4 linked regions of the Homo sapiens genome follow. The protein of the gene in region 4 binds, or shares a complex with, the protein of the main gene of each other region. Each region holds a gene or a part of one and is shown on either strand. Other genes may lie near its edges. The genes, in order: GINS2, CDC45, GINS4 and MCM3.

Region 1 (7,492 bases), on a different chromosome or scaffold from region 4:
CGGGCACGATGGCTCATGACTGTAGTCCCAGCACTTTCGGAGGCCCAGGTGAGAGGATCACTTGAGCCCAGGAATTTGAGGCCAGTCTAGGCAACATAGTGAAACCTCATCTCTACTAAAAAAAAAAAAAAATTGGCCAGGCATGGTGGTGCAGAATTGTAGTCCCAGCTACTCAGGAGGCTGAAGCAGGAGGATCACTTGAGCCTGGGAGGTCAAGACTACAGTGGGCCGTGATCATGCCACTGCACTCCAGCCCTCCAGACTGGGCAACAGTGAGATCCTGTCTCAAAAAAAAAAAAAGAAAAAAAGAAAAAAGACGGGAGATGTATTGCAAATCATGGTTACTACAGTTAATAGTCATGTATTGTCTATTCAAAATAGCTAAAAGAGTATATTTTAAATATTCTTACTACAGAAAAATAAAAATAAGGATTTAAGTTGATGGATACGTTAATTCACCTGATTTGACCGTTCCACAATGTATACCTGTGTCAAAACATCACTGTACCCAGTAAATACATGTAAGTATTGTAAATTAAAATAAAACATAAAATGCAAAACAAAATACTTCTGTGTGCATCCCCTGGCACCTGCATTAAGCTAAACTTGAGTTCATACTGACGTCTCCAACCGTAATTCATCTCCAGATGAATCATTCCAGCTTTCTAGGGGAGGCGTTTTACAGAACAGAAAATGATGCTGGAAGGTCCAGCACCCCCACCTCCACCACTGCCCTCTTCCCCTCCCCTTTGGTTTCCTTCTGTCTGTTGACTCTGGTTCCCCCACCCTGAGGCCAGGTGGGAGGATTGGCCTTCACCTGGGTGCTGGGAGTGGCTCAGAGCTGGACCAGATTGGGGCAAATCACTTCACCGGTATTCTCAATCATAAAAACCTCTTGGGAGCTTCTTGAGTGTGCTGTATACCTGGGCCTACCCCATACTTGTCAATCAGAAAGTCTGAGCCTGGGGCTTAGAGAGGGGCATTTTTCAAAACAGCTTTATAGGTTGGGCGTGGTGGTTCATGCCTCTAATCCCAGCACTTTGGGAGGCCAAGGTGGGTGGATTGCTGGAGCCCAAGGGTTGTTTGAGACCAGCCTGGGCAACATGGCAAAAACCTGTCTCTACCAAAAACAAAAAATACAAAAATTAGCTGGGTGGGGTGGCACACCTGTAGTCCCAGCTACTTGGGAGGATGAGGTGGGAGGATCATTTGAGCCTAGGAGGCAGAGGCTGCAGTGAGCTGAGATTATACCACTGCATTCTAGTCTGGGTGACAGACCCTGTCTCAAAAATTAACAAACAAACAAACAAATAAAATGGCTTTATTGAGGCATAATTCACATACTGTAAAATTCCCCCTTTTAAAGTGTACAATTCAGTGGTTTTTAGTATATTTACAGATTTGTGCAATCATCACCGCTATCTAATTCCAGAATATTTCTGTCACCCCAGAAAGAAACCTTGTACCCCCTAACTCCTCATTCCCCCTCCTCCAGTCCCTGGCAACCACTAATTCACTTTCTGTTTCTATGGATCTACCTATTTTGGACATTTCATGGAAATGGAACCATATAATATGTGGACTTTTGTGTCTGGCTTATTTCACTTAGCATAACTTTTTTTTTGTTTGAGACTGAGTCTCGCTCTGTCATCCAAGCTGGAGTACAGTGGTGCAATCATGGTTCACTGCAGCCTCCACCTCCCGGGCTGAAGCAATCCTTTCACCTCAGCCTCCTTAGTAGCTGGGACTACAGGTGTGTGTCTGTGTCACTGTGCTGGGCTAATTTTTTTTTTTTTTTTTTTTTTTTTTGAGACAGAGTCTTGCTCTGTCACCCAGGCTGGAGTGCAGTGGCACAATCTCGGCTCACTGAAACCTCTACCTCCCAGGTTCAGGTGATTCTCCTGCCTCAGCCTCCCGAGTAGCTAGGACTACAGGTGTGTGCCACCACACCTGGCTAATTTTTGCATTTTTAGTAGAGGCAGGGTTTCACCATATTGGCCAGGCTGGTCTTGAACTCCTGACCTCGTGATCCTCCCGCCTCGGCCTTCCAAAGTGCTGGGATTACAAGCGTGAGCCACCGTGCCACCCCCCACTCCTTTTTTGTTTTTTTAATGTAGAGATGGTCTCTCACTATGTTGCCTAGGCTGGTTTCGAACTCCTGGGCTCAAGTGATCCTCCCACCTCAGCCTCCCAAAGTGCTGGGATTACTGGTGTGAGCCGCCACTGGCATCACGGTTTTGAGGTTCATCCACGTTGTAGTGTGTACCAGGACTTCATTATGATTTGTAGCCAAATACTACTCCATCGTATGAATAGGCACCATTTTGTTTGTCCAGACGTCAGTTGGTGGCCACTGGGCTGTTTCCACATTTTGACTATTATGAATCGTGCTGCCATGAAGGGGAAGACACAAGCCTACCAAGTGATTCTCACACACTCAGGCTTGAGGCATCAGGACACCACCCTTCTGCAATCTGTAAAGCTGCACACTTTCCCATCCTGTTCTTTCCAAAGCCCAGTGAGGCTAACAGCAGCCCTGTCCCCATTTTACAGATAAGGATGCCGAGGCTCTGTGATGTGGACAGCCAGGCTCTGGTAGCCCTCCTACCCATCCCTCAGCAGCCTCTCTGAACCTCAGCTTTCTCATCTTTTCCTTTGCTCTTTTATAGGCTGGACAAATCAGGACGCAAACCCTCGTCAGCTTTGGAACACAAATATTTGCCAGTGAAGAAAACATTCCCTCATCAGTCAAAACCCGGACAGTCTGGCACACACGTCTGCAGCTGCCTGAGGGAGCTTCTACTGTGGGAGGGGCCAGATGGCCCACAGCTCCCCCTCCTCCCTGAACACTGCAGGCTCCTTCTCTTCCTACTTCATTTTGAAGATAAAGAGACAGGGGTTCAGAGTTGTCACTTGCCCTTGGTCACATAGCATCCAGAGTGACCTTTGATTTCTTCTCTTCGAGCATATCTGTCTTTTCTCTTTTGTTTTTATTTTTTTTTAATAGAGATGGGGTCTTGGCATGTTGCCTAGGCTGATCTCAAACTCCTGGCCTCAAGTGATCCTTCTGCCTCGGCCTCCCAAAGTGCTGGGATTACAGGCGTGCCTGGCCAAGAGTATGTGTCTTCACACATGAAAGTAACTCAGCGAAAACTCCAGATCTGTAAATAACAACTTCTAAGGCAGATACACAACAGACACAGCTTTGTGAGCAGGCCTGTGAGCTTTACGGCTTTTTTTCACCTTCCCAGTGACCCTCTATGGGGCTTCAGGGAGGTTGGAGAGGAGAGCATCCGGTTAGCTGGGGCGGGGGCAGGGGGTGCTTTCTGCTGGAATTCCAAACCCTGGAATCCTCATGTCTCCTGTGATTTTTCTCGCGGGCCTAATTATCAAGGTTTCAAATTCGACTGCAGTCCTAGAATAGCGCTTCACCCCCAGGAAGCTTTTCCGGCCATGACCACCCCATCAAAATCACCTGGCCCTGGATGAAATTCAGCTTTCTGTCCTTTCCACGACTCCGGAATCCCAACTCCCAGGAGCGTGCACACAGACAATGGGCACCCGCTAGGGGATTCTGACACAGGTGAGCTCCAGCCACCGCTCTGGCTTCACCTGCGCCCACTGTACAGGGGCAGCCGGTCCAGCGAGCAGGTGAGTATTTGCTCAGGTGGTGCAAACCTGCCGCTCCTGTCTCATGTGGGGCTCCTGCCGAAGTGCAAATTCTGAGCTCCTGCTCTGAAGTGTCCGAATTGGAAGCTGTGGGGTGGGATGGAGGAATCTGCATTTTTACAGCTGTTTTAAACAATGTGTGCAGAGAGGGCAGAAGATTGTGAAATTAATGGAAACAAGGTCTTCCCTCATCCCTCTATCTGTCAGCCCGGGTGATGCCTAGTCCCGGGCCCGGTGCTGAGTTTGGGCCAATAAATGCTTGTACTCTTGGCCTGGCACGATGGCTCCCACCTGTAATCCCAGCACTTTGGGAAGTCGAGATGGGAGGATCGCTGGAGACCGGAAGTTCAAGACCAGCCTGAGCAACACAGCAAGATCCCAAATCCACGAAAAGTTGTTTAAAAATTAAAATAAAATAAATGCGTTTACTCTTGGCCCCATGCGGAACGCCGGCGTAGAAGCGGCCCGGAACCCCACCCCCGGCTCTTGATTAGGGCCGTTTGCGGCGGGCGCCGGGGACAGGTGAAGGGACACCAAAGCTGGCGCCCGCGGCAGGAGATCCTGACAGCGCCAGGTGCACGCCCACGGGCGGGGCGGGGCCGGGGTGGGGGCGGGGCCTGTCCGCGGGCCGGGGCGGGGCCGGCGCGCAGCCTCCCTCGGCCTTGCCAATCCGCGGGCTCTTCGCGAGCGCGGTCTCCGCCCCCCCGCCCGCAGACAGCGCCTATAGGCTGTCTACCGCCTTCCTATAGGCTGGCGCAGGCCGTCTTCCGGCCGGGGCGGGCTCTCGCCGTGGCGGGAAAACGGCGGCCGCGGCGTCTCCTCCGGGACGCTGAGGGGCCCGAGGAGACCGTGAGGCTCTGGCCTGCAGCTCGCGCCGCCATGGACGCTGCCGAGGTCGAATTCCTCGCCGAGAAGGAGCTGGTTACCATTATCCCCAACTTCAGTCTGGACAAGATCTACCTCATCGGGGTGAGGCCTGGGCCCGCCGTGGGGAGGGGAGGCCGGGCTGGGCGCGTCCGGGGCTCCCGCGTGGCCTTCAGCCCCGGGGTCGCGGGCTCGCCCTGCTCCCGCATCTGCGGAGGCCACCACTCGGCGCTTGACTCGCTCACCGCCGTTCCCGCTTCTCGGATGAGGAAAGCGAGACTGCGCTCTTTGCCAGTGCCCCGAACGCCCGGGTTTACAGGGTTTTTTTGATCTGTTTGGGGGCTTTTTTGGTTTGTTTTTTGGTTTTTGAGGTGGAGTGTCACTCTGTCGCCCAGGCTGGAGTGCAGTGGTGCCGTCTCGGCTCACTGCAGCCTCCGCCTCCCGGGTTCAAGCGATTCTCCTGCCTCAGCCTCCTGAGTAGCTGCTGTTACAGGTGCCCGCCACCACGCCCGGCGCATTTTTGTATTTTTGGTAGAGATGTGGTTTCACCGTGTTGGCCAGGCTGGTCTCGAACTCCTGACCTCATGAGCCACTCGCCTCGGCCTCCCAAAGTGCTGGGATGACAGGCGGGAGCCACTGCGCCCGGCTTATTTATTTGGTAGAGATGCGGCTGGCCTCGAACTCCTGGGCTCCCCAGGCGATCCTCCCACGTCGGCCTCCCAAAGGGCTGGGATTATGGGCAAAAGTCGGCTTTGCCTCTGTTTGTTTTTGTCTTTATCTTTGAGATGGAGTTTCGCTCTATCGCCCGGGCGGGAATGCAGTGGCGCGATCTCGGCTCACTGCGGCCTCCGCCTCCCGGGTTCAGGTGATTCTCCTGCCTCAGCCTCCCGAGTAGCTGGATTGTGAGCCCCCGCGCCCGCCCGGCTTTGCGTTTTCAGTATGAGGGAGGCGCCTCGGCGCTGGGAGTCCTGGAGAAGGAGGGCAGGCTCTGTACCTGCCCAGACCCACCTCCCCGCACCCCAGGACCCCAACATTGGGTGTGTGAAACCTGTTCCGGAGTTGGAGGGTGCAGGCGGGAGAGGGAGCGCCCCCCACCCACTCAGGGGAGACTTGCATCCTGTCCGCGGAAAGGCCAGAAGGACTGAGCCCCACGCTCGCAGGTGTCTCGGAGCCGCTCAGGAGGCGCTTTGTTCTGAGTCTGGTAACAGTTGGGTTTTTATTATTTGCATTTGGACTTCAGCCTCTGCAATGCCTTGCCTCTTATTTGATAGCAGTAACGCACAGTAATGCTTTTTTTGTTCTTTTTCAATCTTACGGGGAATTGTTTTACTTTTGGCAGGGGGACCTGGGGCCTTTTAACCCTGGTTTACCCGTGGAAGTGCCCCTGTGGCTGGCGATTAACCTGAAACAAAGACAGAAATGTCGCCTGCTCCCTCCAGAGTGGATGGATGTAGGTAAGGATGTGGTGGAGACTGGTTGATGCGTGGGTGGGGCTGGGCTTGGGGTGACGCCCTCTCCCACGGGGTGGAGGCATGGGGCCTCCTTCCTGACTAGGTCCGTGCTCCCTCTGTTCCGTTATCTACTGATCAGCTGAAAGGAATACTTCCAGATTCACCTCTCAGCAGAGTCTGCTAACCACTGTTAGTAATGTCATGTTAGGTTTTGGTGTGTGTGAAAGTTGTAGTTTGTTTTTTGAGACGGGTCTGACTCCATCACCCAGGCTGGAGAGCAGTGGTGCAATCTCGGCTCAATGCAGCCTTCACCTCCTGGGTTCAAGTGATCCTCCTGCCTCAGCCTCCCAAGTAGCTGGGACCACTGGCGTGCGCCACCACACCCTGCAAATTTTTGCGTTTTTGTAGAGATGGGGTCTTGCCATGCTGCCCAGGCTGGTCTCAAACTCCTGGGGTCAAGCGATCTGGCCACCTTGGCAGATCTGCTGGGATTATAGGCGTGAGCCACTGTGCCCAGCCTATATTTTAATGTAAGATATTTCAATTTGCTTTAAAATAAATATATGACCTTAAATAAGCATTTGTTTTAAAATTTTAAAAATAAGTATAGATTAGCATGTTGAGAAGCAGTTATAGAGAATGCATGAAAATAATATATCACAATAAGGTTGAATATTATTCAGCTATAAAAAGGAATGGAATTCTGATACATGCTACTGCGTGGATGAACCTGAAACATCTTAAAGATCTTGCTGAATGAAAGAAACCAGGCACAAAAGGCCGCACACTGTATCATTCCATTTCTATCAACTGTCTAGAATAGGCAAATCAATAGAGACAATGTAGATTAGTAGTTGCTTAAGTATGGGGGTCTTGCTTTGGGTGATGGAGGGATTGTGGAGTTTCTTTTTGGCATGATGAAAATTGGGATTGATGGAGGTAATGGTTGCCCAAGTCTGAATATACTAAACACCATTGACTTGTACACTTTGTTTTTAATAGCCCACAAGTGCTACTAAAACTTGTATACTTTTTTTTTTTTTTTGAGACAGAGTCTCGCTCTGTCGCCCAGGCTGGAGTGCAGTGGTGCGATCTCGGCTCACTGCAAGCTCCACCTCCTGGGTTCACACCATTCTCCCGCGTCAGCCTCCCAAGTAGCTGGGACTACAGGCGCCCGCTACCACGCTCGGCTAATTTTGTTTTTGTATTTTTAGTAGAGACTGGGTTTCACCGTGTTAGCCAGGTTGGTCTCAATCTCCTGACCTCGTGATCCACCCACCTCAAAACTTGTATACTTTAAATGGCTGAATTGTATGATATATTAATTATGCTTCAATAAAGCTGCTAGAAAAAACTGAAACAAATCAAAGATGCAGACAGGCTTTATTCTGAGCCTTTGAAATCTTTTTCTTCTCTTGGAGATATGAGTAGCTTATTATAGGGAAAAAAAATCTTAATTTTTTTGTGTGTGTTGGTGAGGAGAGGGGTATGGTCATACATATAGAATT
Region 2 (7,034 bases), on a different chromosome or scaffold from region 4:
ATGCCTTTCAAAACCAGAAACTTGCTTTGCTGCGAGCAGTCTATGCACCAAAGGTTGACATTGCCCTGTCAACAGGCAGGGCACGGGTGGCAGCCCATATAGTTCAATGGAACCCAGTGGCCGCTTGGGCTTTGGGCTTGTCTCTGGGTCCTTCCCACTGAACAGCGAAGGCGCACCAAGCCGCAGGCAAGCAAATGCCCACAAGGGGCTCGAGGCTAGACTCACCATAATGTGTTATAGGACCAGCAGGTTTGTATGCCTGCTGTGCAGTAACAGACTTGTTACACTGAGACAGCAGAGTTTGCAGCAGAGGAAGAGTTTCATGATTGCAGGGCACCGAGTGAGAAGATGGGAGGAGATCCTCAAATCCATCTCCTTGAGGAGTTCTGGGCTGGGCTTTTTTGGTTTTGTTTGTTTGTTTGTTTTTGAGATGGAGTTTTGCTCTTGTTGCCCAGGCTGCAGTGCAATGGCGCTGTCTCGGCTCATCGCAACCTCCGCCTCCCAGATTCAAGTGATTCTCCTGCCTCACCCTCCCAAGTAGCTGGGATTACCAGTATGCAGCAACACGCCCGGCTAATTTTGTATTTGTAATAGAGACGGGGTTTCTTCATGTTGGTCAGGCTGGTCTCAAATTCCTGCCCTCAGGTGATCTGCCCACCTTGGCCTCCCAAAGTGCTGGGATTACAGGCATGAGCCACTGTGCCCGGCCTGGGCTGGGGCTTTTAAGGGGACTGGAGGGTGAGGGGCTGGAAAATTGGGAGAGTTGATTGGTGGGGCAAGGGGGATGTAATCATCAGGGTGTACAAACTGCACTCTTGGTTTAGTCAGCTCCTCGTGGGGTCCTTCGGAGCAGCTCAGTCAGTAGCTCCATCAGTATACAGGACCCAAAGGAATATCTCAAAGGGAAAACAGCATTTCCTAAGGTTCAAGTTGTGATCTACGGAGCAGTTAGGGGAACTACAATCTTGTGACAGGGTCTACATGCTTCTGAGGCAATGAGACACCAAGCAGCTACGAGGAAGCAGTCAGAGAGCACGCCGACCTAGTGACTGATGCTGATGTGCTGCGAGCTGGGTTCATTTTCATTTCTCCCCTCCCCCTGCCCTCATTAATTTTGTAAAGTTTATAGGGAACATTTCACCCACTCTGCTGTGGATCCCTGTCACTTACGGAGTCTGTCATCTTGGCTGTATGGGCTGTGGCCTCTGCGGTGCCCATTCTCAGGAGGTGTGAGACCCATGAGGACCGGAGGTGGACAAGGCTAGAGACCACACCCCCCCGCTCCATCCAATCATGTTTTCCTGGGTGCTTGGTTTCTATGCAGGCTGCATGTCCTTAGTCCCTGCATGGGAACAGCTCCTGTGGTGAGCAGGCCCCTGAGGAAGGCCTTGAGCGGGAATGGAGCCTAGGCTTAGGCTGCCTGGTAAGAGCTGGAGGGAACCAGCCGAGGCTTGTGCTACTTTTTTTTCCAGAATGAAATACGTGACTGATGTTGGTGTCCTGCAGCGCCACGTTTCCCGCCACAACCACCGGAACGAGGATGAGGAGAACACACTCTCCGTGGACTGCACACGGATCTCCTTTGAGTATGAGTATCCTTGTGGCCCAGCCTGAGGGGCACAGGCAGCACCCCTGCTCAGCAGGCCTTGTTTGCTTTGTCACCCTCTGTGGGTTCTGGCCACATCCCCAGGAGGGAAAGCAGGTGGGGCAGGAAGTTTTGGGGGAAGGGGCTGTGGTGTGCTACCCCAGCTCATCTGTGTGGCTTTGGCTTCTAAATGCCAGAGCTGAGTTTGGAAGTATCACCCTTCTCCAGCACATCCCTGTAAAGTGCTTATTGTGGGCCTGGCTCTGGACATGGTAGCAGTGCGGGCAGTGGTTCACGCAGTCAGGAAAGAAGGCAGCTGCCATGTAATCACACAGCGTGACGTGTCTTTTGAGAAGCACATGGGACATTGGTGGAGTGCTCAGAAAAGACCATGGGGAGACCACATCTCACACAGTCTCAGCCACACTCAGTGTGGCAGCTGCTGTACTGAGCACAGGAGGGGCTGGGGGACTGGCTGGGGTCAGGTGTCAGGAGGCCAGAGCAAGCCTTGTGAGCCAAGGGCAGCGGGAGGCTGTGGAGTGACCAGAGTTTGAGTCAGGGTTTTTAAAAGGTCCCTTGGCTGCCCAGTAGAGGTAGGTTGGGGGCAAGGAGATGGTCACTGCTTTCCAAGGCCACACAATAGTGGCTTGGCCCAAACTGCAGCAGTGGCTGTAAGCAGTCAGATAGCATGATGTCAGGGACGGAGCTGCCCTGTCTCTGCACTGTGATGGCTGGGAAGGAGGAAGAGTGAGGGTGGACACGTCAGTAGTCAGGTGGCCATCGGAGCCTGGGGAGCGGGGTGGAGCTGGCTGAACTCCTGGGGAGGGGAGCCGCTGTGCACTGGAGCTGGTCCCATCATGTGCGTGGCAGGGTGGGCTCACTTACCCAGGGACCATGGGAGTGTGTGACTGAGACAGGAGGGAGGGAGTCAGGGAGCTGAGGATGCTGGGGCTTGAGGAAGCTGCTGGAGTGTGGGCAGGGAGCATGGTGGTCTGAAGGCCTGGGAGTTCCCAGGAGTTGGGAGGGGCAGTGGTGGGAACTGAGCATGCCGAGGAAGCAGGCAGGACCAGGCTCTCGTCCTGTAGAGGGGAAATCCACCGTGGGGGACAGTCCACACTCACAACTGCGCTCACGGTGCCAGGGGCAGTGATGGATATGTTTAAGAAAAGGGCTGAGGAGGTCGGGCGCTGTGGCTCACGCCTGTAATCCCAGCACTCTGGGAGGCCAAGGCAAGTGGATCATGAGGTCAGGAGATCGAGACCATCCTGGCTAACACGGTGAAACCTCGTTTCTACGAAAAATACAAAAAATCAGCCAGGCATGGTGGCGGGTGCCTATAGTCCCAGCTATTCGGGAGGCTGAGGCAGGAGAATGGCGTGAATCCAGAAGGTGGAGCTTGCAGCGAGCCGAGATCGTGCCACTGCACTCCAGCCTGGGCGACAGAGCGAGACTCCGTCTCAAAAAAAAAAAACGAAAAAAGGGCTGAGGATGGGGGCGCTTCGTGGATGGGGTCCCAGTGGAGGGCTCTCCGGAGGAATGGGTTGTAGGGAGGGCTGGGCTAGGTGGAGCAGGAGGTGCAGGACGACAAGCTGGTGACGCCCAGCCTCCTACGTCATGTGTGGCCATGACTGCTCCATGTGACCACAGCACCTGGACTTTGCAGACCCCTGTGCTCCAGATTCTCTGCCTGTCAGACGGATGGTGGTCTATGCCTGTCACTTCACAGGCTCTCTGTATGGGTCAGCTTAAGCTAAGAAGGTCAAAGGGCTCCAGGTCACTCTTGGGATACCTGGTTTTGCAGGCAGGCCTGGTGAGAAAGGGCCCCGCCATCAGAGTGGCCCACCTGCTGGAGTTACGAGAGTGCTCAGGGCGGCCAGTGGGTGCTTGCATGCTCCTTGACTGCAGGCCCAGCCTCCGCCTGGTGCTCTACCAGCACTGGTCCCTCCATGACAGCCTGTGCAACACCAGCTATACCGCAGCCAGGTTCAAGCTGTGGTCTGTGCATGGACAGAAGCGGCTCCAGGAGTTCCTTGCAGACATGGGGTGAGTGACTGCCTGGGCCTCTGCAGTGCCAGCCCTGGCCACCCCCAAGGGAAAAGCCCCTCTGCTTTGTTGTGACCAACTTAGTTATAAAATGCAGCCTGTTCTGCCATAAGCTCCTTGCCCTAGATCCCAGAATATCTTCTGAATGCTGGTGCGGGGACATCCTCGCTTGCCCTTGGTTTGGGTTTCTTTCCACCCTGTCGGTGTGTGGTGACCTCACTCATGTGGCTTGGGCTTGCTCTTTCCAGTCTTCCCCTGAAGCAGGTGAAGCAGAAGTTCCAGGCCATGGACATCTCCTTGAAGGAGAATTTGCGGGAAATGATTGAAGAGTCTGCAAATAAATTTGGGTAAACACACATTTTTCTGGATTTATCTTCATTACATCCAGGTTCATTAAAGTGAAGGGTTCTACTTTAACTGTGCTCCTAAAATAATGCAAAAAAAACCAACGTGCTCCTAAAATAATGCAAAAAAAACAACAACCCGAGAATGTACAAATGAGTGTTATCTGAGTCTGGCCATTCCTGAAGTCTTGAGTTCTTTTTGGGTTAAAAATAAGACTTCTTCAAGCTTGTGAGGTTTAGGATCCTAGGATCCTTGGATCCTAGGGCTGCTGTGGGACCTGTGAGGTCGACCCCAGTCTGTTTCACTGGAGACAGCAAATGGGCCACAGGGCCAGGTTCAGGTGAACTCTGCCCGACCAAGTCCATGGGCACTCCTGGAGGCCCCTGGCTTCTCCCACCCCAGCCAGCTGGCATGCTAAGGTGTGAGAGAGGACCCCACACACCCCCTAAGCCAGCCATAAAGCTGTTGACAAGAAGGCACCCGGCCACTCTGGGCTGCAGGGCTGGTATGTCTGGACGTTCTGACCTGCCTCATCCTCTGAGCAGCATGGCTGTGCTGGAAGCATTGACTTGGGCCTGTGAGGGACATTAGCACATCTGTTGGCCTGCCTGGCAGTGAGAGCTTGCCCACAATTTGAGGGTGACAGCTGTGTTTGCTCCCATGACAGGATGAAGGACATGCGCGTGCAGACTTTCAGCATTCATTTTGGGTTCAAGCACAAGTTTCTGGCCAGCGACGTGGTCTTTGCCACCATGTCTTTGATGGAGAGCCCCGAGAAGGATGGCTCAGGGACAGATCACTTCATCCAGGCTCTGGACAGCCTCTCCAGGTAGCAGGAGGGCTGTGGGTTTGCCTCATGGGGCCACCACTGGTTCTCACACTGCCCAGGGAGGTCAGTTACGGGGACCCCAGGGCTGTGGGAGTGACTGTGTCCTGCAGAAACTGCTTGGGTGAACTGGAATCACAGTGCCAGTGTGGTGTGCACCTGACACATTACCTGCCCCTCTTCAGTATTTGTCACTTTCTCTTGAATCTTTTTTGGCTTTTTTTTCTTTTTGATTTTTAAAATTTTCTCTTTTTTTACCTTTTGTATCTCTTAACAAAAGGCATTATTTGTTATGTATATTCGTTCTTGTGTTTAATCTTATAGTTGTCATTTCTCAATTTTTTAATTTTCCAATTCTTTCTTATCTCACTTCCTGAGATGTCCTATATTTTTCCATGTCTTTTCGCTTGTTTTGAAATGGAATGTGACAATTTGGATCTTTTTTTTAGCATGTCTGTCTAGTGTCAGACTAAAGACATCAGAGAAAAATATCTCCAAATACACTGAATTTATTTGGGAATTAGAAAAGAGGATTATAGTGTCTGCGATGCACAGCTATGGCAAGCCAAATATGCATCCAAAGAGAGGAGGCTAAGGGGACACTTTTATTGGCAAAAGGAGAAGTTCACGAAAGCTAGCTTGGAAACAATTCATTGGTTTCAGAGACTCAGAGCCAGAGTTGGCGTCAGTTCAGTGGTGAAGATGCATTACTGGGCAAGTGTTATATTTTAAGAGCATCTTATCTGAATTGTTGCAGTCCTAAAGAAGGGATTTCTTGTGGGGTTATTTAGAAAGTCTTTGAGTCTTTATTCCAGACATGCAAGCAGGAGCTCTCCTTGGTGCTTTCCCAGCTTTAATTTGTTTGGGCCTGTCAAAAAGTGATTTCATCCTGGGATCTGCAACTTTCACATTAGTGTACTTTCATTATCCAGAGAGGTGTTATTCTGTCCCTTATTCTCTTTTTTTCTAATAGTGACTTTGAGGGGATTTGACTTTGCTACTTCTCTCATGCTTTTTATGTATAAATTTCATTTCCCTGACTTTTTAGGAGGAGGAGGCATGATTCAGACAGCTTTTCTGGCTTCACAGAGCTGCCACTTCTGTTGCTTTTGTGCAGTGGTAAAGATGCATATGTATATATGGGGGCCTGCTTTCTGGGATTTCCTGGTTCTGCTCCCAAGCACACTTTTTTTTCCACTGCTTTATTGAGATACAATTTGCATGCCATACAATTCACCCATTTAAAATGTACAATGTGATGGCTTTTATTTATTTTATTGTTATTTTTTTAGAGACAGGGTCTCGCTCTGTTGCCCAGGGTGGAATGCAATGGCATGATCATAGCTCACAGCAGCCTTGACCTCCCAGTCTCAAGCAATCTTCCTACCTCAGCCTCTTGAGTAGCTGGGACAACAGGTGCATGCCACCACGCCTTGCTAATTTTAAAAATTTTTGTAAAGATGTATCACTATGTGGCCCAGACTGGTCTCAAATTCCTAGGCTCAAGCAATCCTTTCACCTCAGCCTCCCAAAGTGCTGGGAGGAACAGGCATGAGCCACTGTGCCCAGCCTGCAATGACTTTTAGTAGGTTGCAGTTAGGTTTTGCAAGGTTGTGCAGCAATCACCACTATCTAATTTTAGAGCATTTTTGTTGCCCCAGAGAGATCCTCCCAGCCTCTGGCAACCACCAGTCTCCCTTTTGTCTTTATGAATTGGCTGTTCTGAGCATTTCATACAAATGGGATCATATAAGATATGGTTCTTTGTGACCGGGTTCTTCACTTAGCATCATATTTGCAAGGCTCATCTATATTGTAGGATGTATCGGGATTATATGTCTTTTCCCTCGTCCGCCACCTGAGACAGAGTCTCACTCTCGCTCAGGCTGTAGTCCAGTGGCACGCTCTCGGCTCACTGCAACCTTCGCCTCCTGGGTTCAAGCAATTCTCCTGCCTCAGCCTACCGAGTAGCTGGGATTACAAACGCATGCCACCAAGCCTGGCTAATTTTTGTAGTTTTAATAGAGACGGGGTTTCACCGTGTTGTTCAGGCTGGTCTTGAACTCCTGACCTCTTGATCCACCTGCCTCGGCCTCCCAAAGTGCTGGGATTACAGGCATCAGCCACCATGCCCGGCCAGTGTCTTTTTATTATAAATAATATTCCATTGGATGGATATATTCTATTTCATTTATCCATTCATAAGTTGATGGGCATGTGGTTTGTTTCCACCTA
Region 3 (6,304 bases), on a different chromosome or scaffold from region 4:
GTTGCAGTGAGCTGAGATCACACCACTGCATTCCAGCCTGGACAACACAATGAGACTCCATCTCAAAAAAAAAAAAAAAAAAAAAAAACCTTATGTGATTATTAATTGGACTGTGGCAAGGGTCTTTCACAAAAGACTTCCCTACAGTTTGACATCTACCCATTGAGTCAGCATTCTTTTTTCAGCCACTTAGGAGTCTCCCAATCCAAGCCGTCCCCTAGCCCCAGGTCCATAGCTTGCCTGCAAGGGTGTCTCAGAGACGTTGTCCTGTGTCTTATGGTGTGTCTCTCCACCCACCCTATCCCACCTCCAGGCCACATGTCCTTCCTCGGGAGGGTTGTGTAAACCCTCTTTATGTTAACCACATCCTTCTCTTTGACTTTTGCCAATGTTTTCATGAAGATTTTGCTTTATCCTCACAGATAGAGAAGTTTTTCCCTCATGTCCTTGAGAAGGAAAAAACACGTCCTGAGGGGGAGCCTTCCAGCCTCTCGCCGGAAGAGTTGGCCTTTGCCAGAGAGTGAGTGAGTGAGCCGTTGGCGTGGGGCACCTGGCTGGTTCAGCATGAGGCCTGTCCTAGAGGCCTGTGCGCTGCTGCCTGCTAACCTTGGACGTCCATCAGCTGTGTACACCACAGCGATTTGAATCCATGTCTTTCAGGTTCATGGCGAACACAGAGTCCTATCTGAAAAATGTCGCCTTGAAGCACATGCCCCCTAACTTACAGAAGGTGGACCTCTTTCGGGCAGGTAAACAGGACGTTCTCCCTGCAGGTGGCCCACCCATCCTCAGGTGTCCCAGGGTAGGATCCTCTCTTCACTGTTTTTACCCAAATACAAAAAAGTAAGTATGTAGATAAACAGAAAGAAGAGCAAGGATTCTAGCTAAAAACCAAAAAAATCACGGAAAGCAGATCCAATGGTAGGCATTTGAGCATTGCTTCCTTGTTCCCTGGGGTGGGCTGAGCCCCATGACTGCACTGGTGCTTGTAGACTCGGGCATGGAGCCGCGTTCGCCTTCAGTAGCCATCTGCTGAGCCTCTGTGAGGTGCTGGCAGCCCCGAGTACCAGCACTGCAGAGCCTACACCAACATTGCCCCTGCTTAGAGGGGCTGGCCATCTCTTCGTCACAGGTCCCAGAATGCACAGGGCTCGCCTAGCTGGAGGGGAGGGCTGAAACAGGAGGCTAGGGAGACCTCCAGTGAGTCCCTGTGGCCTCAGAAGAGGGAGCAGGTTGGAGGGTGTGGAGAGAGGAGGGAGGGGAGCCGGGGAAGGGGAGCTTGGCCGGAGCCCCTCCTCGGGCTTCTTCGCACCAGCCCCTGAGGGCTGCCGAGCAAGGAAAGGGAGGTATAGGCAGAGCCCTTACCGTCGGATCAACCCACCGGGGGCCCTGGCTTACAGGATAAAGCCCATGTTCCTCAGTGTTTCACAGTGCGCCAGATCCAAGCAAGACCTCCTCAGGCAAAATTGCCATACCAAATCAAACGAGCTCCAGTACACCCGAGCCCTGGAAATTCATCTCTGCCCAGCCTGTGCTGGGGCTGGGGACCACACAGCCACCCCTGCGGTGGTGGAACAGGGTCTTAGTCCCTTTGGGCTGCTCACAGTTATGGAGACTGGGAAGTCCAGGATCCAGGCCCCCACAGACTCAGTGTCTGCCAAGAGCCTGTTCCTCATAGATGGCGCCTTCCATATGTCCTCACAGAGAAGGGAAGGGGCAAGCAGACTCTCAGGCTACTTTTATAAGATCACTAATCCTAGTCTCTGTGTGTCCTAGTCCCCTCCCTCCCCCCCACCTTTTGATTTTTGTTTTTTGTTTGCTTTTTATTTTTTGAGACAAGGTCTTGCTCAGTTGCCCCAGCTGGAGTAGATTGACGCTGTCATAGCTCACTGCAGCCTTGAACTCCTGGGCTCAAGCGATCCTCCCACCTCAGCTTCCCAAGTAGCTGGAACTACAGGCATGTGCCACCATGCTTGGCTATTATTTTTAAAATTTTTTTGTGGAGACAGAATCTTGCCATGTTGCGTAGGCTGGTGTCAAACTCCTGGCCTCAATTGATCCTCCAGCCTCAGCCTCTCAAAATGCTGAGATCACAGGCATAAGCCACTGTGCCTGGCCTATTCTCTTCTTATAAGACACCAGTCAGATTGGATTAGGGCCCACACTACTTGGCCTCGCTTTCACTTAATTGCCTCTTTAAAAGCCCTGTTTCCGAATACAATCCCACGCTGAAATACTGGGGGTTAGGGCTTCAGCGTATGAATTGTGCAGGGACACAGTGTAGCCCATAACACCAGGAGCAAGTCAGACCCATACCAGACTTGTGGAACCCTGAATTGGTCATTTTGCTGAGGCTGCCTGAGGAAAACAAAAGGCCCAATGCGTGTCCGGTTTCCTCCCTGGTCAGCCACTCTGTCTGCATCTTTGAAGAGTAGGAATGGGCTGGGCTCCTATCTAAACCCTGAGTGTGCCATACCATTCTTCCCAGCAACTTTTACTTTGTTGACTTTGTTGGCCGAGGATTTCCTAATCACATTGTTGTTTTCCTGGCAGTTCCCAAACCAGATCTAGATTCTTACGTGTTTCTGAGAGTGAGAGAACGACAAGAAAACATACTGGTAGAACCAGACACAGATGAGCAGAGGTGAGTGGCGTGCATCTTTCACAGTGGGCACATTCCTCCCGATGGAGGGCCAGCCGAGCTCTGCAGGCAAATGTGTTTCCCTCTTTTTCAGGGACTACGTGATTGACCTGGAGAAGGGCTCACAGCACTTGATCCGATACAAAACCATTGCACCTCTGGTTGCATCTGGAGCTGTCCAGCTAATTTAAAACTAGGCATAAACAGCCAGGCATGGTGACTCAAGCCTGTAATCCCAGCACTTTGGGAGGCCGAGGCGGGCGGATCATGAGGTCAGGAGTTCGAGACCAACCGACCAACATGGTGAAACCCCATCTTTACTAAAAATACAAAATAATTAGCCGGGTGTTGGTGGTGTGCACCTGTAATCCCAGCTACTCAGGAGGCCGGGGCAGGAGAATCGCTTGAACCTGGGAGCAGGAGGTTGCAGTGAGCCGAGGTCGTGCCATTGCACTCCAGCCTGGGTGACAGTGAGACTTTGTCTCAAAAAAAAAAACAAAAAACAAAAAAAAAACAAACTAGGCATAAACTCATGAGGTCAGGAGATCAAGACCATCCTGGCTACTAAACCCCATCTCTACTAAACCCATCTCTACTAAAAATACAAAAAATTAGCCAGGCATGGTGGCGGGCCCATCTACTCAGGAGGCTGAGGCAGGAGAATGGTGTGAACCCGGGAGGTGGAGCTTGCAGTGAGCCAAGATCGTGCCATTGCACTCTAGCCTGGGCGACAGAGCGAGACTCCATTTCCAAAAAAAACACACTAGGCGTAAACAAGAATGAAGACCTGGAACCGTAGAGAAAATACTAGAAACCCCTCGTATCACGTTGTGCCTGAGGACAATAATAAAGTAGTTTACTAGGCATCAGACATTCCTCAGCAGTGCTGTGGGTCACGGGCGTGAAGCGGAGCTCGAGGCAGGATTGCTTGTGTTGCTGCATGTCCTGTCTGCTGTTTTAGCCCGTGTCAGTAGATGGGGCCATTGTACTGTTTGTTCTGCACACTTGGCGGAGCAGCAGAGGCTCTCAGCACGCCTTTTCCCTTTGTAGTATTTTCTGAGCTAAGGAAAGTCAGGCAGAAGTAGTTCATAAGAAGGCATCACTGCCTGTGATCGGGGCTGCATTTAGCCCTGACCTGATAATGGTAGGAGAGTTCATTTAGCCTTTCTGCTGCGAAGATTGTAAATAGATTAAAGAAAACAGCTGTGGCCTTCTCCCGTCATACATCATTAGACTGTGTAAACTAACATTTTAGAACCTCTAATATTGGACTTAAAACCAATTTCTGTCGTGCTTAATTGAAAATCACAACTAAACCAATAAACCATTATTAAATTTCCATTCTGCAGCAGAAGGCACCTCTGGACGGCTCCCGGCTTGTAGTTTAATGAAGTATGTGCTCCCTGCTGTTAACCCGCAGCCCTCCCCAACTCTCCAGCAGCTTTGCCAAGTCAGCCTCCGGGCCATCTGGCTGTCCTTGGCCAAGGCACTGTTAACGGAGTGACGTTAACCATCTTGTATTGTGACCTGTGGCCGCTTTTCTGGTTTAAGTCCTTCACTTTTTCAAGAGGAATGGATGAAATTAATGTGCATGCAGAGTCTCACAGTGATGCCGGAAGGAAGGATGTATAGGCAGTGAATGAATGATCTTTCCTTGAAATGCTATAAAAAGCAACCTGCATTCCAGTCTTTTCTTCCTGGTTGAAGTTGGCAGATTTCCATTTGCAGGGTATGGGCTGCGAGAGTAATCAGGGTAACATTGCTGTCATTTCCAAGAGAAATCAGTAGGGGAAAGCAAGGGAGGTCTTTTTTTTTTTTCTTTTTTGAGACGGAGTTTCCCTCTTGTTACCCAGGCTGGAGTGGCAGTGGTGTGAACACGGCTCACTGCAGCCTCCACCTCCTGGGTTCAAGAGATTCTCCTGCCCCAGCCTCCCGAGTAGCTGGTATTATAGGTGCACACCACCACACCCAACTAATTTTTTGTATTTTTAGTAGAGATGGGGTTTCATGATGTTGGCCAAGCTGGTCTCGAGCTCCTGACCCCAGGTGATCCACCCACCTCGGCCTCCCAAAGTGCTGGAATTATAGGCGTGAGCCACTGCGCACGGCCTGGGGAGGTTTTATTTCTTGACAAAGGTATTTGATACTCGTGCAGTCCCTGGAGGGTCTCACTGGAGAGACAACATTTAGGCTGAGATCTGATTAACAGGAGGCAGCTGCAGTGCAGAGGTCAAAAGGGAGGGTGTTCCAGGCAGAGAAAACAGCCTGTGCAAAGGCCCTGAGGCAGAAACAAACTCTACTTGAGGTCAGCCTGGTTAGAAAGCCCAACTCAAAATAGAAAGTATTACATGATAAGGTCTGAGGCAGGCTGGACCCAGATCTTACAGGACCTTGTTAATAAGGATCCCATTTGGTCCCCCACAGTCCTGAGAAGCGGGCAGGGCTGTGGGAAACAGCAGATATTTAGTGGTAAGCCTGAGATCAGAACCCAAGTCTGCACTTCCTAGTCACGTTCTCCCTGTAGTGCTAAGCCCAGAGACCTGAGCTGTTAACCTAGAACAGTGTGCTTCCTAAGCCTTAATGTGCATACCCATCGCCTGGAGCTCGCCTTAAGATGTAGGTTCTGCCTGAAGCCCAAGTTCATTTAGTATGTCATGGTTAATTCAGAGTAAAATCAAGAGTTAGTACTTGATTTATGCTTGTTATATAAAGAAAGAGACAACTTCACTGTATGATCATTTTGTCACTTTTCAAAAGCATTTAATTCCCATTCAATTGAAAATGTTTCAAGAACAAACCTGTTTGGTCATTTTATTGATATTGCACATTTGTATATGAATAAATTTTTGCAAATTAAAAAAAAAAAAGATGTAGGTTCTGAAACAGGGTGAGGTCCAGGATCCTGCCTTTCTAAGGAGCTCCCATGTTGTGCAGTTGCTGCTGGCCCGGGGACCACATTGAATGACGGCTCTACGTCCTCATGCCTCCAGCTGCTGCCCTGTACATGTCCAACTGCACGGAGCACTTTACATCCTCTAAAACCACAGTAAATTGCTCCATTTCCTAAATTACCTCTTCAAGAGAAGACTGGTTTTGATGTCATTTTTAAATAAAGGAGAAGTTGAATTTCAAAACCAAGTGGAACAGGAAATGATGTGACTTGGTTGACATTGATTTTAACATTTGGTTCATGGTGAGTGTTTTGCTTTATTGTTAAAAACTCGCCACTAAAAGCATGACAGAACATTTTATCAAATGATGGCGTCATCCTTTACCGTAAGTTTGCCCCTAGCAAGACAGCTCTTCCTGAGACGTGCTTGCAGGCCGCTATGTGGGTTTTCCCACCGCAGTCATCATCCGTCATCTGTGACCTTGCTGCATTTACTCCATGCTCACACCCCAGCAGCCCGCCTGGCTTTGGCATCGCCCTCAGAGGCATCAAACTTCCCCTGCTGCAATGTACAAGAGTTAGCCAGGAAGCTTGCAGAGTGCTTTGGTTTTGTTTTGTTTTTTTGACATGTCGCCCTGGCTGGAGTACAGTGGTACAATCTCAGCTCACTGCAACCTCCGCCTCCTGGGTTCAAGCGATTCTCCTGCCTCAGCCTCCCAAGTAGCTGGGATTACAGGTGCACACCATGACACCCAGCTAATTTTTGTATTTTT
Region 4 (7,034 bases):
TCAAAAACCCCAATACTCTCCTTTCAATTCTGGGCCTACTGGACTGATACTTACCCATCCACATACACTTCACAGTCAGAGAACATAACAACCTTTAGGTAATAATGATTTTGACCATGTTCACGTTTCAGGTCCTGCCATTTTTCTTGTATTTCCCAATCACTCTTGAGAATGACATAAACATACATTATCATTTATTTTATTTTATTTTACTTTTAAAGATGAGGTCTCACTATATTGCCTAGGTTGGTCTCAAACTCCTAGGCTCAAGTGATCCTCCCACCTCAGCCTCCCAAAGTGCTAGGATTACAGGCATGAGACACTGCGCCCAGCCCTATCATTAATTTTAAAAGCTATGGTTTTCAACCTTGGCTACACATTAAAACCAAACCTGTGGAGCCCTTCTAAACCATAGCTACCAAGAGCTCCAACTCAAGAGATTTTAATTCAGAAACTCTGAACGGGGGACCATGCAACTGTATGTATAAAAAACACCATCGCATCGCAACAAGGTGTTCCCATACACTGTGGGATTGATTATAAACTGCCAGGACACAGCATGAGCTCTGGGCTCAAATCCTGGCTCTGCGATTTTCAAGTTTGTGGCTCTTGAGCAAGTTACATAATCTTTTGTACCTCCATTTTCTCATCTGTAAAATAAAGATAACTACACATTGTGAGGTAGTTACTGATAGGATAAAAGGAGTTGGTAAATACAAAGCATTTATGAGCATTCATTAATAGAAGTATTAATATGGTACAATCTTTAAAGAGGGTAATTTTGCAATCTCTACCAAAAGAAAAATGCACATAACTCTTAATCCAGTAATTTCCTTGCTAGGTATTTATACTACAGATATATTCCCAAATCTATCCACACACATAAAGGGATGGCCACTACAGCTTCATTCAAAATAGGGAGGAAAAAATGGAAACCACTAAATACCCATCAGATGGAGACTAGTTAAATACATCCCTGTGACGGAATACTAGAAATCTATTTTTTTAAAAGGAAAAACTCAACAAACCCCACGCACAGACAAATATAAAAGATTATATCTAGCACATCACAGTCATGGTAAAAACAGAGATAATTCTTAACAAGGAAATAGTGTATTTGCTGGTACATGCTTAAAGTTTTGTTTCCTGCAACACTTCAAAGCTGTTATTTCTTGGCAAAGTGACAGGAGAGAGAAGCAAGTCTTTTCGTTTTCATACTATATACCTGTTCTGTTTAGAAATTCTCCCGCCACATGCATGTAGTCCTTTTATTTAATGGACGGTTAAATATGTTAAATGGACTGTTTAACTGTACTGTTAAAAAGTTACTTTTAAATAAGGAACTTTCCAGGGGATTCTGCTGTGCAGGAATGGGTGAGGAACACTGCTCTAAACAAAGGACAATAACAAGAAAATGGCCTTACTTTTAGTCTTTGGCCTATTATTCCCCTGGGTCACCTAGAATACACTTCTCAGCCCAGTTAGTCAGCAAAACCAAATGAAGGTGAGGACAATGGTTGGGGCCTGATTCCACTTACCCTGCCGTAGACAGGGTTGGCAGCTGCCAAAACACTGCAGCGGGCATTCAGCCGAGCATGGATGCCAGCCTTGGCAATGGTCACTCGACCCTGCTCCATCACTTCATGGATGGCTGTGCGATCCATGTCAGACATTTTGTCAAATTCATCAATGCAAACCACGCCTCGGTCAGCCAGGACCATGGCCCCTGCTTCCAGACGGCGCTCTCCTGGGAAGTGAGAAGGTAAAAATACGTGCTACAGTCTAGGTTATAGGGGCCAGAAGGGAAGGATTTCAATCTCCTTCCTAGGAATCTCTCACTTTGCACGTGAGAATGCGGCAATGGTGTGTTGGCTCCGAGAAACTTAGAGGAAACCCTGGTGGGTCACCTTTTCAGCTCTAATCTAAATATTAATAGTATCTCTTTGTCCCACTTTGACCCCTAAGTAACTAGCTTCTCACAAATTTCCTTCATAGATTCTCTCTTCGGCCTCAACCTCAAGTAATACCCCAACTAGACCTCTGCCTTCTCTTCACTGGTCTCCAAATCCCTTCCTCTAGTTCATAAAATAGTACAATCTTCATTTTTATTTCCTTTCTAATGTGCTAAGACTTAATCCTTTAAATCGAAAACATTCCTGTAAATAGATGAACACCAAAGACTTAAATAATTCACCCACCATTGCTGAATACTCAGTCCTCTATAATCTGGACCCAACTAACCTATCAGCTGTATCTTCAGAACACAAGCCAGGGCACACAAAGGATCTATGCTCAGGCTCTCTGCTGGGCCTTTGCCAAGGACCCTTACACCCTTACCTGTTTCCTGGTCTGTGGTGACAGCAGCCGTCAGACCCACTCCAGAGGAGCCCCGGCCAGTGGTGGGGATAGCTCGGGGTGCAGTGCAAAGCACATACCGCAGAAGCTGAGACTTGGCAACGGATGGGTCTCCTGTAGGGTGGGGGCAGTGATGACTCTCTAGGAAACTCCCCAGCACCCCCAGCAAATTCTGCCTTTCTAGCACAGCTCTTGACACAACAGAGTCACACAGTAAGTGGATTTTAATATTTTTCCTTCGCTTTTCCCTTCACCACTCACGGAAGAATATTTATATACTATAAATCAGGAATTCCAGAGATGACAAAAAAAAAAAAGATTCATTTTAGCCTTTTGTCCTTTGATAGGACTGAAATACTGCTAAGTACAGAATATACAATCTTACATATTATAGGTCTCCACAACCACTCCATCAGAACAACAGTCTAAAGCAAATCCCCAACATCGTACCTATTAGAAGAATATTGATGTCCCCACGGATGTGGCTGCCATTTTCTAGGTCTCGTTCCACCCCTCCCAAGAGCAAGCAGAGGATTGCTTTCTTGACATAGTCATGCCCATGGATACTTGGGGCCAATGACTTGGCCAGCTGGTCAAAGATATCCTACAGGAGAAATAACCAATGGCAAGCCTAGTGAGATTCAATGGGACTTTGTGGAGCTCCACTTTATATACTTTGGCCTATAGAAAATACTTGAAGAGGGCCAGGCGCAGTGGCTCAGGTCTGTAATCCTAGCACTTTGGGAGGCCGAGGCAGGCAGATCACGAGGTCAGGAGTTCGAGACCAGCCTGGCCAACATGGTGAAACCCCATCTCTACTAAAAATACAAAAAATTAGCCAGGCGTGGTGGTGTGCGCCTGTAATCCCAGCTACTTGGGAGGCTGAGGCAGGAGAATCACTTAAACCCAAGAGGCGGAGGTTGCAGTGAGCAGAGATCGCACCATTGCACTCCAGCCTCGGTCACAGAGCAAGATTCCGTCTCACCAAAAAAAAAAAAAAAAAAAAAAAAAAAGAAAATACTTGAAGAAACACACAAACAGGTACATTGTTCCTAACTGCAAAAAATTATTTTCTAAGACAAATTACACTATCAGGCCATTATCAGAGTAGGCACAGAGCAGCCTGGATTCCAAAACTTGTTTAGAGGTTTAATCTTTAAGGGAAAAAAGTATCCCCAGGTTCAAAACATTTTAGGTTTAATAAGAACATGTACTGTGCTTGAACAGTAACCTTTATCATCACACATTCATATATGTAGTTCAATTCTAAATGTGGATATACATCCTATCTTAAAAAGATAAAAACAAGTTGGAGAACTAAAACAAAGAAAAAATGTTTAAGTAGTAATGCATCACTAACGCCTTCAGTAATAAATAGACTTACTGGTACACGGGCAAGTTAACACCTATCCTAATATTTGTACTAGGCTCATTTAGCAGCCCAGCAGGTAGCAGGTATTAAAATTGTTTAATAACAACAGAATTACTAAAGAACAAACAGCAAAAACACCCTTCATTTGTTGATTGAGACAAAAATAGAAAAAGCTAACACCAAACCTCAACCCTTCCTTCTGATCTAGTACAAAAATAGCCATGCACCAAAACACAACTCTTAGAAATCCATTCCCACCCTCAAATTTCTAAAGGATGCCCAGACCTTGGATCGGGTTTTACTGAACTTCTTGATCTTGGCTATATCCTCAGCAGAGAAAGAGGGCTGAGCATCCTTGCTCATCTGCTTAACATTACAGGCAATCAGGACAGTCCTGGGACAAACAGAATAAAGAGGAAACCCGTTATATTCAATTCCTAACATCAGTAGCTAGTACCCCTAGCAGGAGTAAGCCTTTTTAGGCTGCCAAACTAGACCAGCCAATTAGAGTTGGTGGGGAGGGGGCAGGTAGCTATTGTGAATTAAACAACTGGTTCTGTCTGTGATCCAAATATGCTGATCATGCCCCACCTCTGGAATTGACCCACAGAACTTCAGACAGAACTGTGTATGGGGACGAAGTGTAATTAAATGAGAAACTCCCAGGAAAGCCATGAGGCTGTAATCATTGTCACCAATAACTCTCATTTTTGGCATATGATGGTTAAGTATCACCAGCTTTATCTGATAGAAAAGAGGTATTGAAGGTATCCTGTCTCCCAGGCAGGTAGAGTGCTCCACCTATCAGATATAACTCTCTGGAATATGGCAAACTGGAGAAAGGATATTACCAGAAATGGAAGCTGTCAACAGCATTCCATATACTTTAAGGCAGACCCTTTACCTGAAGGTCCCAGAGGTGTAGCCTCCCTTCTTTCCAGGAAGGCAACGGTAGGTTCCCACCACCTGAACCCGGTCACCAGGCTTCGCTTTATCCACCAAGTCATCATCCAGAATGACGTCCACAGAGCGGGGGAGCTGGCCGGCTGGGGCCTTCTCCGGCATCTCCTGGATGGTGATGGTCTGGTGATCCTTGTAGACAGAAAGGCCATATTCTGTCTCAAGGGGATTGTTCTCCTCATCCTAGAAAAAGGCACACAGAGGGACAGAGTGATCTCCGTCCTGTCTTAAAAATGCCACACTCACCTGTCATGGCAAATAAGATGACTTCATAAAATTTTATTATTCAGTAACAAAAAAAGCCAAGTACCTTCTCTAGCTTTTTGTGTTCCTGTCTGTTTTAGTAACAACCATCGAATGGAAGGGGCAACCCATAGTCTGAATGGACTATGGTTATATTAACATCTAAATTAAGATTCTTACTTCCCCTCTAAAGCTGAATATATGCTTACATTCTGAAGCAGTTTTTCCACTCCTAGGTAATACCCAACAGAAACATTCACCCAAAGCCATGCATTGTAATGCTCATAGCAACATTATGCCTAGTAGTCAAAAATTTTAAAGTGTAAAAATGCCATCAATAGTGTAATGGTTAAACACGGTATATTCACATAAATGAATACTATACAGCAATAAAAATGTATGAAACACACCTATACACAACATGGATAAATCTCATAAACACAATGTTGAGCATAAAAAGCCCATAAGTATTTAAATAAAAAACAGCTGAAAGTAATCCATACTGTTAGACATCAGGATAGTGGTTACCCCTAGGTAACATGAGCCCTCAAGAGGGACTTCTGTGTGCTAATATTTCCTCATTTGGAGCTGGTTACACAGGTGTACTCAGCTTGTAAAAATTCATCAAGCTATACACTTATGTGAGCTTTCCTGTACGTATATTAAAGTTTTACTTCCTTCACATTTGAATTTTCTAAAAACACAGTTGTCACTTATTGAGTGTTTGCTATGTGCCAGGCACTGTGCTATTACTTCACAAAATTATCTCATGTAATTATCACAACAACTTTGTAAAGAAGGTATTTTCACACGTCATGCACAAGGAAACCAGGAGACTAGGAGAGATTAAGTAAGTTCCCCCAGGTCACACAGTTAAGTAGCAGAGTCTTGACTTGATACAGGTGTTAACTCCAAAGCCCACGCTCTTAAGCATCACCATAGACAACCTCCAGAAGATCTGGTCCAATGTATTTCACTTTTCAAGTAAAGAAGCTTGGCCACAGTAATCAACAGAAGAGTACTTCCCAAGTACTTCCTGAAGAGGAAATTCTAAAAAAGTGGAGATCTTAAGGTCCGAAGAAGACAACAGAATGACTTAGAAAATACAACTGGCATGAATTAAAGAGACACAGGTCCTAGTCCTTAAGGCCATCACTAACTGGGACCGTAAGCAAATTGTTTAACTTCTCTGATCTCAGCATTTCATCTGGAGGTAGACTAAATGATGCTAAAGTATGTTTAAGTTATAATTCTAAGATATTCATTCGTTTTTGTTTATGTTTCATTTCTCCACCACTGTGAAGACTAATGACGAGGACTGGGTCTTATTTATATCCTTGTCCTCCATAGCGCCTAATAGTGCTTTGAATACAGTAGTTCTCAATTAAAATTTGATGAGGGGAGGAGAGGAATTGTTTGATAGAATCAGTTCAGACATCAAGTAATCCATATAAATGATCTTTTGTCTCCAGAGGAAAACCTTGCATTGTCCTCAATCCAGATCAATCTGAACACCAAGAAGAAAGCATTTTCCTATGCCAACCTGCTCCCAAACCCGCAACAAAATATTTGTAAAGATTACATAACAGTCTAGCATTATTTTTCTACTTTTTAAAAAGCAGATTCTAAAATTATAACGTTGTTAAAACATCTATGTAGATGACTTCTTCTTTTGACTATTCCTTAATTTTCTAAAATGAACAAGTGTTTTCTTAAAAAAATAATAAGAGTTGTGGCTGGGCATGGTGGTTCATGTCTGTAATCTCAATACTTTGGAAGATGGAAGCAGGAGGATCACTTGAGGCCACGACTTCCAGTCCAGCCTGGGCAACATAGCGAGACCCTGTCTCTAGAAAAAAGTGAAAAAAAAAATTAGCGGACCTGGTGGTGCATGCCTATAATCCCAGGTACTCAGGAGGCTAAGGTGAGAAGATTCGTTGAGTCCAGGAGTTTCAGGCTGCAGTGTTCTATAATGGCACCACTGCACTCCAGCCTGAGAGAGACAGATCCCGTCTCTAAAAAAAAAAATAAGAATTGTGAAGCCAGGTGGCGTAGCACATGCCTGCAATCCCAACTACTTGGGAGGATCACTTGAGCCCCGGAG

Evidence for each region.
Region 1: MCM3 (region 4) and GINS2 share a complex: the UniProt entries of both Homo sapiens proteins name them as parts of the CMG helicase complex.
Region 2: MCM3 (region 4) and CDC45 share a complex: the UniProt entries of both Homo sapiens proteins name them as parts of the CMG helicase complex.
Region 3: MCM3 (region 4) and GINS4 share a complex: the UniProt entries of both Homo sapiens proteins name them as parts of the CMG helicase complex.

The regions. Positions count from the first base shown.
Region 1 is NC_000016.10:85,685,955-85,693,446, reverse strand, and holds the start of GINS2 (DNA replication complex GINS protein PSF2), read left to right. Parts: upstream 1-4,492; 5' UTR 4,493-4,548; coding exon 4,549-4,638; intron 4,639-5,872; coding exon 5,873-5,987; intron 5,988-7,492. UniProt on the Homo sapiens protein: Required for correct functioning of the GINS complex, a complex that plays an essential role in the initiation of DNA replication, and progression of DNA replication forks.
Region 2 is NC_000022.11:19,503,890-19,510,923, forward strand, and holds part of CDC45 (cell division control protein 45 homolog), read left to right. Parts: intron 1-1,472; coding exon 1,473-1,592; intron 1,593-3,496; coding exon 3,497-3,628; intron 3,629-3,876; coding exon 3,877-3,975; intron 3,976-4,640; coding exon 4,641-4,802; intron 4,803-7,034. UniProt on the Homo sapiens protein: Required for initiation of chromosomal DNA replication. Core component of CDC45-MCM-GINS (CMG) helicase, the molecular machine that unwinds template DNA during replication, and around which the replisome is built.
Region 3 is NC_000008.11:41,539,256-41,545,559, forward strand, and holds the end of GINS4 (DNA replication complex GINS protein SLD5), read left to right. Parts: intron 1-422; coding exon 423-520; intron 521-660; coding exon 661-749; intron 750-2,553; coding exon 2,554-2,644; intron 2,645-2,735; coding exon 2,736-2,832; 3' UTR 2,833-5,775; downstream 5,776-6,304. UniProt on the Homo sapiens protein: Required for correct functioning of the GINS complex, a complex that plays an essential role in the initiation of DNA replication, and progression of DNA replication forks.
Region 4 is NC_000006.12:52,274,730-52,281,763, forward strand, and holds part of MCM3 (DNA replication licensing factor MCM3), read right to left. Parts: intron 6,946-7,034; exon of another isoform or gene 6,824-6,945; coding exon of another isoform or gene 6,812-6,823; intron 4,871-6,811; coding exon 4,632-4,870; intron 4,122-4,631; coding exon 4,013-4,121; intron 2,960-4,012; coding exon 2,806-2,959; intron 2,470-2,805; coding exon 2,338-2,469; intron 1,748-2,337; coding exon 1,539-1,747; intron 1-1,538. UniProt on the Homo sapiens protein: Acts as a component of the MCM2-7 complex (MCM complex) which is the replicative helicase essential for 'once per cell cycle' DNA replication initiation and elongation in eukaryotic cells.